Linked DNA regions of Homo sapiens. The protein of the gene in region 1 purifies or fractionates together with the protein of each later gene. This does not show direct contact. Each region holds a gene or a part of one and is shown on either strand. Other genes may lie near its edges.

Evidence for each region.
Region 2: the proteins of NUDT5 (region 1) and AGBL2 purify together in Homo sapiens (affinity purification with mass spectrometry; one large-scale study listed by BioGRID and IntAct). This does not show direct contact.

The regions. Positions count from the first base shown.
Region 1 is NC_000010.11:12,177,845-12,182,830, forward strand, and holds part of NUDT5 (ADP-sugar pyrophosphatase), read right to left. Parts: intron 2,646-4,986; exon of another isoform or gene 2,551-2,645; intron 1,289-2,550; coding exon 1,239-1,288; intron 57-1,238; coding exon 1-56. UniProt on the Homo sapiens protein: Enzyme that can either act as an ADP-sugar pyrophosphatase in absence of diphosphate or catalyze the synthesis of ATP in presence of diphosphate.
Region 2 is NC_000011.10:47,708,041-47,713,026, reverse strand, and holds part of AGBL2 (cytosolic carboxypeptidase 2), read left to right. Parts: intron 1-2,515; coding exon 2,516-2,650; intron 2,651-4,986. UniProt on the Homo sapiens protein: Metallocarboxypeptidase that mediates deglutamylation of tubulin and non-tubulin target proteins. Catalyzes the removal of polyglutamate side chains present on the gamma-carboxyl group of glutamate residues within the C-terminal tail of tubulin protein.

The DNA.
Region 1 (4,986 bases):
CAGAACGATACACTCATAGTGAAGTGTTCTCTGCAGCACGGGGATGACCGCGACACCTGTCACCAGGAAATGGAACCAAGGAAATCCCTAATGAGAGGTCAGCAATGCCAGCACATTGTTTAGAGCAAGCTAATGAAAACCCCAGACTTTAAGAAACTCCGTTTTAATCTACAATACTGGCAGTTAATATTGGAAGCTATTTTAAAAATGTAATTAAAAATCATCACTTCCATGTTGTTTACACTTTCTTTTTTAAACAAAAAGGCTGTTTAATTGTCACAGTTTCTTAAACTAAAATCGGAATAAAACGAAACATTTCCTACAGGGTCAAGGATGTAAGGTTTCTGACTACACTGACCTTCCACAGAACCACTTTCCAGCGTGTGGCAGCCCTACCACTGGTGAGGCCACAGCCATCCCTGTGCTCCTGGGTCAACTTTGAGCAAGAAATCAAGTAAGTTCCACTGTCTGCAATAAATGCTAGCAAGACTGATTTTCCAGTTTTAGGGTAAAAGACCTTTCCTCTCAAGTTACTTGGCCTTCATTAAAACCTAAGAAAAACAAAAACGACTGGGTTTCAGAAAACACAAAGCACCCAGGAGGGTCCCCTGGCTCCCCACAGCTTCCTATCTGTGAAGCCAGCAGCAGCAGCATAGCTACTGTTTGCTTCCAGCAAAAATGGAAACCAAAACTAAATGGAAAAATAAGAAAAGCCTAGTGCCCAACTTCCCCTCGACCAGAGTGATTCTCAGGATTGTTTGTAGGCTCTTTGCAGTCAAGGCATTCATGCCTGGAGGGGAGGGTGAATGGAATAGGCTTTGCCCAATTAATTCCGTGTCCTCATCAACCTGTAAAGCAAGTGGTCCATAAGCATGAAGGTGTGCCAAGTAACTTTCCAAACTAAAGCCTCTCATCTAGATCCTTCCAACAGGACACAAGGACTTCTAGAAGTCATAACACGTCTAGACACAGGTGTGGCTTCAAACTATATTGATTTACATTTAGTTATAAACATTAGAACAACTTCCCCTCAAAAACAATGTTTTGGGCTTAGATAACAGAAGCCAGAAGTTACTTATAAAGAAAGCTTAATTTCGTTACATAGTATGGCAAAACCTAAGCGGAGATTTAAAGACACAACATCCTAATAGAAGTTAACTTGGTTCCATTGAAAACCCTCTTACGATCACAAGTGCTAACTTCCTTTCTAAAGGGTTGGAATAGGTTTGCACTCCTACCATCCGCAGTCTGCTCTTTCCTGGTTGTACGTTTCACTGATTCCCAAGTTCTGTTCAGGCAGAGAAGAAAAAAAAGTCATTAGTGCTACAGAAGAGAATTTTCTTAGGTTTTCTCTGTACAACCAGAACTTCTTAAATGCAATGCATGCAAATGTACTCATGATACTGGTCAAGAAGACCACAGCAATAAACGTCTGCATTAAAGAAGCTAATTCTGCTTTCCTATAGCTTCTGAAAATTAACAACGAAAACTCTTGCCACCCTACACCTCACCTTCTGGGTGCCCCCGAAACAGAAAGCCTGCTAAGCATGTGAGCTGCCGCTTTCTCAGAAAACTTTAGTTTGGATCCTATGTCTCTGGGCAAGGAGCACAGCCAGTGACAGATTAATAAGCAGGTAATGCAAATGAAGCCATAGGAAAAGACTCACCCCGTCTCTAGGAACAAAAGCTACTATGGACAACGTGAACTATTGAGATTTTCATATCATTTTGATTTTTAAAATATGTGACCTAAAACACACAATTTAAGAAGGTAGAACCTTCCCATTTATTAATGGAAGAATTATTAAATGTAGGCAAGTGCCCCTACTTTGCATGTGTGAGATCTTATCTAGAAAAAGTGGGCTGAGTAACAGCACAGTCCTGCTCTCTTGTATGGCTTTATTCCTGGTTAGCTATTGGTTTCTGACTGTTACCCAACTCAGCTTTTGGGTAACATCTGTGCTATTCTACTTTCTGGCCTTGGAACATGGGGCACAGTTGTACAGGAAACCCAGTTACTGACACAATTATGCAGTTTAAAGGGGCGAGGCATAAAAGGAACATTCTCCCTTCACTCTCTTCTCCCTACAACAGAAAAAAGCAGTGGTAAGAGACCAGAGTGGAGAAGCAAACAATTTTAGGATCTCTTTTAAAGGAAGTGAAACATGTGGGTGGCTCTGGGGCTTGGGATAAAAAGGAGTTACCACCTGCATCTCGATAGTAAGAGCTGCAAGATATCCTCCTCGGAACCCTCCTGCTCATGCTTCCTATCCGGCTGTCCTTAAAATTTGGACCTTGTCATATTTTCATTAAAATTGTTCAAATATTTAATTTGCTTTTTAAAAAACAAAACAAAAAGACTGTCTGGAAATTGTAGGTCTTTCAGCATTGTACCCAAATTCCGAAGGCCAAATATGTCAAAATGAACACAGGAAAATCAAACAGACTTCTATGACAACTCACAGCAGCCCAACATTCCTGTTAGTAGCAAGGAGCTGACCAACAAGCAATGCTGGTAAGTAAATCATACAGATTGCAAGAGATGAACACCTTTTGGCATAGCTCTCTCTGCTGCCTCCTAAGGTTAGTCCTAAAGACTGAAGAAGACAGTGCTGGGAAAAGCACTGAAGGTCCCATCCCAAACACTAGGAATAAGGGAAACAAAAAGAGGAGCATCATTATCGTGGTTAAGGTGAAGGAAACAAGCAGTAACGAGCCATAAATCACCAGCAATAAAACAGAAACGCATTGATAAGAAATCTCGGAATAAGATTGCCCAGTGAGAGCTCCAACAACTTCAAAGGGCCTGTGAGATGCACAGCTGACTGGAAGTCAGCTCTTCGTCTCTACTTGCCCGCCAGCTAAGCCCAGAGCTCCAGCCTCCCTGAGGCTCTTCCCTCCTTTGTAAAAAGCAGGAATGAGTATGTTTTCTCCAAAACCTCTTCTAGCTTTAGGATTCTGCTTCCAGTGAGATCATCCTATTCCTAGTCTTCTTTGTTATGGAAAAGCCTGTTGGCCTTCCTCCCTCTAGTTCACCAACACAAGAGGCGGGAGGGTCAGAGGGTGACTTCGGCACTGTCTTGAATGTCAATAGACACAACACTACTGGAATATTTTTATATTTCTAAAATTAACCCCACATCCCCTTTCATGAATGAGACGGTGGAACATAGGATTCTCTAGCTGCTATTTTATCTCTTAGACTCGGCCCTTCATATCCGTGGGTTCTGCATTCATGGATTCAACCAACCACCCATTGAAAATATTTAGGAAAAAAATTGCATCTATACTGAACAGGTCCACACTTTTTCTTGCCATTATTCCCTAAACAATAGAGTACGACTGTTGACACAGCATTTGCATTGTATTAGGTGCTGTGATTACTCTAGAGATGAAGTGCGTGGGAGGATGTGCATAGGTTAGAGGCAAATACATACTGAGTATCTGCATTTTCATATCAGGGACTTCAGCATCTGTGGATTTTGGTATCTGCAGGGGGTCCTGGAACCAACCCCGACAGACACCAAGTGACAGCTGTACAGGTTGAGTATTCCTTACCCGAAACGAGGGGCCGGAAGTGTTTCAGAGTTTGGTTTTTCAGATTTTGAAATATTTGCCTTACCCTCTGGGTGTCATGCAGGCCTTTTTGACATTTTGAACAGTATCTTTACCCCACAGAGCAGGAAATAAGCCAAAGAACCCCACAATGAGTCATGCACATAGGTCTCAGCCCTGTGTAGGGTGTTGTGGGGAACTGCTGCTGGGCATCCGGTCTGCACACATGCCATTTCATGACCCTCTGTGGGAGTACCTGCAGAGGGAAGTCGCCGTGTGCGTGCAAAGGATATATCGGGCCGGGTGTGGTGGCTCACGCCTGAAACCCCAGCACTTTGGGAGGCCAAGGTAGGAGGACTGCTTGAGTTCAGGGGTTCGAGACCAGCCTGGGCAACATAGTGAGACTCTGTCTCTACTAAAAAAATAAAAATTAAATAAATTTAAAAAAAAAGGATATGGCCGGATGCGGTGGCTCACGACTGTAGTCCTAGCACTTTGGGAGGCCAAGGTGGGTGGATCACCTGAGGTCAGGAGTTTCAGACCATCCTGGCCAACAACACTGCCTCTACTAAAAATACAAAAATCAGCCAGGCCCAGTGGCATGCACCTCTAGTCCCAGCTACTCGAGTGGCTGAGATAGAATTGCTAGAACCAGGGAGGTAGAGGTTGCAGTGAGCTGAGACCACACCATTGCACTCTAGCCTGGGCAACAGAACAAGACTCTGTCTCAGGGTAAAAAAAAAAAAAAAGAAGGATATAGCTGAGCTGAAGGGGAGGGTTCCTTTTCCCCTGGGGGGACACTGAATGTCTGTGTTGTATGCCTGTGTTCTGACTGCAGCCTGTCACACAGAGTCAGGTGTGGAATTCTCCAGCTGGGGCATCATGTTGGCAATGAAAAGGTTTTGGATTTTGCAGCATTTTGAATTTCAGATTTTCAGATTAGGGCTGCTCAACCTGTACACGCAGGCTTTTATATCAGGTCAGAGATAACACATCCTATAAATTATACATCGTGGCATACAGGAAAGTACAAAGACTCATTCTTCAAAGGGTGACATTCTGGTATAAAATATTAGTGCTTTACATAAATCCTCTTCAGAGGCCAGGAAAAAAACCCTATGTATGGAAGAATGGACATGACCATGCTATAAATATGGTAGTTTGGTGGATTTTAGAGCCTACTCCCAATCTACTGAAATAGATATTCTGAAGTGAGATTTCGTCGTATTTTCAGAAAAGTCCCCATATGATTCTGATGTACATCCCTGATTAGGAAATGCAGGAAGGGCAGAAGACCAGTCAGGCGAAGAGATGAGCTGGCGCGAACACATCTTTTTATTTTATTTTTATTTTTTGAGATGGAGTCTCGCTCTGTCGCCCAGGCTGGAGTACAGTGGTGCAGTCTCGGCTCACTGCAACCACCTCCTCCCG
Region 2 (4,986 bases), on another chromosome or scaffold:
CTTGTTGCCCAGGCTGGAGTGCAGTGGTGCAATCTAGGCTTGCTGCAACTTCCACCTCGCGGGGTCAAGCGATTTTCCTGCCTCAGCCTCCCAAGTACCCAGGTAGCTGGGATTACAGGCGTGTACCACCATGCCTGGCTAATTTTGTATTTTTAGTAGAAACGGTTTCACCATGTTGGCCAGGCTGGTCTCGAACTGACCTCAGGTGATCCACCCACCTCAGCCTCCCAAAATGCCAAGATTACAGGCATGAGCCACCACGCTCGGCCTAATTTTGGTATTTTTAGTAGACACAGGGTTTCCTCATGTTGGCCAGGCTGTTCTCGAACTCCTGACCTAAGGTGATCCACCCACCTTGGCCTCCCAAAGTGCTGGGATTACAGGCGTGAGCCACTGTCCCCAGCCCGCTTATGACATTTTAAAAGATTATAGGAATTGCATTAAATCTGTAGATCAAATTTCACAAGAACTGGCAATTTTTCAACACTGGGTTCTCCAATCTATGACTATAATATTTATCTCCATTTACTTAGGTCTTTAATGTCTCCCAATAAAGATTTATAGTTTTTCATAATACTTCATATTTTTATGCTATTATAAATATTGATCTTCTTAAAATTTAATTTCCTAACTTTGTTACTGGTATATTGAAATAAGATGGAGTAATATTCATTGTATTAGTATTAATTTTATTTCTATCAAAGAATGTTGTTAAACTTTTTTATTAACTACATTAGTCCCCCCTTATCTACAGGGGGGAGGTTCCAAGGCCCCTGGATGGCCTGAAACCACTGATAGTACTAAATCCAAATCACTGTCATTCAGAACAGACTTCTATCTTCCACCCACAAATTTAATGCCTTTTCCACCATAACTAAGTACTTATGTACTGTGGCCATTACTTTTGCAATATGAAGTATGACAGCAAAACTATTATGATATTTATTTATTTATTTTTTAGACGGTCTGTTTTTTGCCTTGGCCGGAGTGCAATGTTGCAATCACAGCTCATTGCAGCCTTGACTTCCCAGGCTTAAGCGATCCTCCTACCTCCCAACTAGAAGGGAACACAAGCACATGCCAGCACACCCAGCTAATTTAAAAATTTTTTTTGTAGAGACATGGTCTTACTATGTTGCTCAGGCTGGTCATCATACAATTTTTTACTTTCCATACAAAGTCAAGAACTTCAGGCCGGGCGTGGTGGCTCACGCCTGTAATCCCAGCACTTTGGGAGGCCAAGGTGGGCAGATCACCTGAGGTCAGGAGTTCGAGACCAGCCTGGCCAACATGGCAAAACCCTACCTCTACTAAAAATACAAAAAATTAGCTGGGCATGGTGTTGCACGCCTGTAATCCCAGCTACTCGGAAGGCGGAGGCAGGAGAAATGCTTGAACCCGGGAGGCAGAGGTTGCAGTGAGCTGAGATTGCGCTACTGCACTCCAGATTGTTGAAGTTTCAATACCCTCTTCATGGGGAGAGAGACATTCAGGGAGGGGTTGTGTAGGCAATTGTGAAAGGTAGTAAATGATATTCAGGAGAAACGAATGAGCTCCAAAAACCATGTCCTGGGACAAAGTTCCTCTGAGCTCCGGGGAGGGGTGGCAAGCAAGTGAGGGGAGGAGCTTCACTGAAGAAAGGTTGTCTTATGCAAATAGTTGCCCAGGTAATCTCTGAGTTGCCCTCAGAATTGATGAAAAGTCTATCTGGGTGTCGTGACAATTTTTAGTCTCCTCTTCGGTGGTTCATCTTTAGTGGTTATTTGATGAGATTCCTAGGGAAGGGGTCTTAAAATAACTGCTTTTCTTTTGGAAAGAAGTTTCCTTAGAAGGAATTCCAGAGAGGAGTCCCTTCCTGCTCTTGGGGTAGTGGGGAGACAGGAGAGGTCAGAAAGTCCTTGATTCTGAGGCAGCTTCTGCAAGCCTTTTCTATTTTTTTTTTAATTTATTTTTTCAACTTTTATTATAGATTAGAGGGTACATGTGCAGGTTTGTTACATGGGTAAACTGCATGTTATTGAGGGTTGGAACCCTTTCTATGTTGAATTCAAAGTGTTCAGTATGCCAAAGTGCCAAACCTTTGGGCCATAATTTTTTTTTTCTTTTTTTTTTTTTTTGAGACAGGATCTCGCTCTGTCACTCAGGCTGGAGGGCAGTGGCCTCCACATCCCAGGCTCAAGCAACCCTCCCAGCCTTTGGCTATCATTTTCTGAGTTCCAACACAGCCCTTGTAGCTTCAGAATCTTTCTGCCTGCCAAGTCCTTTCTCACTCCACTACACCAGGCTGCTTCTCAAGTCTCCTCTTCACATCCATTTCCTCAGCTGTAAGGTGGGGATAATTATGCTTCACTCACATAAGTTGGAATATGAAAGCTCTTTGAAAAATGCAGTGTATTCATTGCAAAGGGCTGTGGTGGTGGGTGGTGATAAAAGGAGTAGTGGTTTGGTATTGACCTAGATGTTAGAAGTGATGAGTCGGCCTTCCAGCAACTTTAATTAAACTGCCAATTTTTAGCTCAGAGAGGCAGTTTACCAAACTCTGCTACGCATCAGCATGTTCGGAAGAATAACCCTCAATGCCTGTTGAATGGCTCTCTTGGGGAAAAAGATGATTTGATACCAGACACCCTGCAAAAGGAGAAGCTTCTATGTGAGTAACAATCAGTATGTGTGACCTCTAGAACCTCATTGCCTAGTAACTCCTCTGAGTATTCAGAAGAATCTGCTCTAACATGGGAGAGGCCAGGGAGCAGCCTTGGCCTCTGTTTCTAACACCATTCAAAACTTCTCTCTAAATCTACTTTGGATTACAGGTTTAAATCAAAATACTGTATTTTCTAGCCGGGCATGGTGATCACGCCTGTAATCTCAGCACTTTGGGAGGCTGAGGTGGGAGGATCACTTGAGGTTAGGAGTTTGAGACCAGTCTGACCAGCATGGCAAAACCCCAGCTCTACTAAAAATATAAAAATTAGCCGGGTGTGGTGACACACACTGGTAATCTCAGGACTTGGGAGGCTGAGGTGGGAGGATCACTTGAACCCAGGAGGCGGAGGTTGCAATGAGCCGAGGTTGGGCCACTGTACTCCAGCCTGGGTGACAAAGTGAGATTCTGTTTCAAAAAAAAAAAGAGTAATACACCTGGCATCGTGGCTCACGCCTGTAATCCCAGCACTTTGGATTGCTGAGGCAGGCAGATCACTTGAGCTCAGGAGCTCGAGACCAGCCTGGGCAACACGGCAAAACTCTGTCTCTACAGAAACATACAAAAATTAGCTGGGCATGGTGGCAGGTGCCTGTGGTCCCAGCTACTGGGGAGGCTGAGGCAGGAGGATTGTGTGAACCTGGGAGGCGGAAGTTGCGGTGAGCTGAGATTGCGCCACTGCATTCCAGCCTGGGCAACAGAGTGAGACCCTGTCTCAAAAAAAAAAAAAAAAGTAATACATTGATTTTTACAGTTTGATGGATAATGCTTACTAAGGCTCTTTGCATAGGAGCAGTGGAAAACAGTTCTAGCTAGCTTACACAAAAAAATAATTTTTTGCAGAGACACAGGTTTCTTCTAAAATCCAAGGGGAGGAATCCAGTTGAACTTCTCCCTCAAACCAAACACTGATCCACCCCTCTTTTCTCTACAACCCCCCCTGCTTATCCCCAACCTCCACCGCTACCCTTACACCCCCACCCTCAGAGTCCTACCACCTCCCATCCAAGCTGTCATCATTCAGCCTCCTAATTGGTCTCCTGGCTCCTCTTGTTCTGTGCTGCCCCGCCCCCTCCAATCAATTTTCCACATAGCAGTGTTTTTTATATGCAAATCTGATTAGGTCCCTTTTTTACTTAAAACCTTTGAATGACACAAGATCTGAAAACCGTAAAATACAATATTGTTTTGTTTTGTTTTGAGACGGAGTCTCGCTCTTGTCGCCCAGGCTGGAGTACAGTAGCACTATCTCAGCTCACTGCAACCTCTGCCTCCCGGGTTCAAGCTATTCTCCTGCTGCAGCCTCCTGAGTATCTGGGATTACAGGCGCCCGCCACCACTCCTGGCTAATTTTTGTACTTTTAGTAGAGACAGTGTCTCGCCATGTTAGCCAGGCTGGTCTCAAACTCCCAACCTCAGGTGATCGGCCCACCTCAGCCTCCCAAAGTGCTGGGATTACAGGTGCGAGCCAACACACCCAGCCAATATTGATAATTTTTTTTTTTTTTTTGAGACAGAGTCTTGCTCTGTCAAAAGGCTAGAGTGCAGTGGCTCCATCTCGGCTCACTACAACCTCCGCCTCCTGGCTTCAAGTGATTCTCCTGCCTCAGCCTCCCGAGTAGCTGGGACTACAGGCACGCGCCACCATGCCCAGCTAATTTTTGTATTTTTAGTAGAGACGGGGTTTCACCATGTTGACCAGGATGGTCTTGATCTCTTGACCTCGCGACCCGCCTGCCTTGGCCTCCCAAAGTGCTGGGATTACAGGCATGAGCCACTGTGCCCAGCTGATAATTTTTAAAGGAAAAATTTAAACTTCTCTTTGGAAAAAATACCATTGATAAAGTAAAGGACAAACTAAAAAAAAAAAAATTTGCAACAAATATGCCAAAGGGTTCATTTCCTTTACATATAACAGCTCTTTCAAATCAGTAAGTGTTAATAAAAGATGATTGGGCTGGGCACAGTGGCTCATGCCTGTAATCCCAGCACTTTAGGAGGCCAAGGTAGGCGGATCACCTGAGGTCAGGAGTTCGAAGCCAGCCTGGCCAATTTGGTGAAACCCCGTCTCTACTAAAAATAGAAAAATTATCCCAACGTGATGGTGCCCACCTGTAATCCCAGCTACTCAGGAGGCTGAGGCAGGAGAGTCGCTTGAAATTGGGAGGCAGAGGTTGCAGTGAGAGGAAATTGCACCACTGCACTCCAGCCTGGGTGACAGAGCGAGACTCCATCTCAAAAAAAAAAAAGATGACTAAATCTGAACATGGTGGCAAATGGCT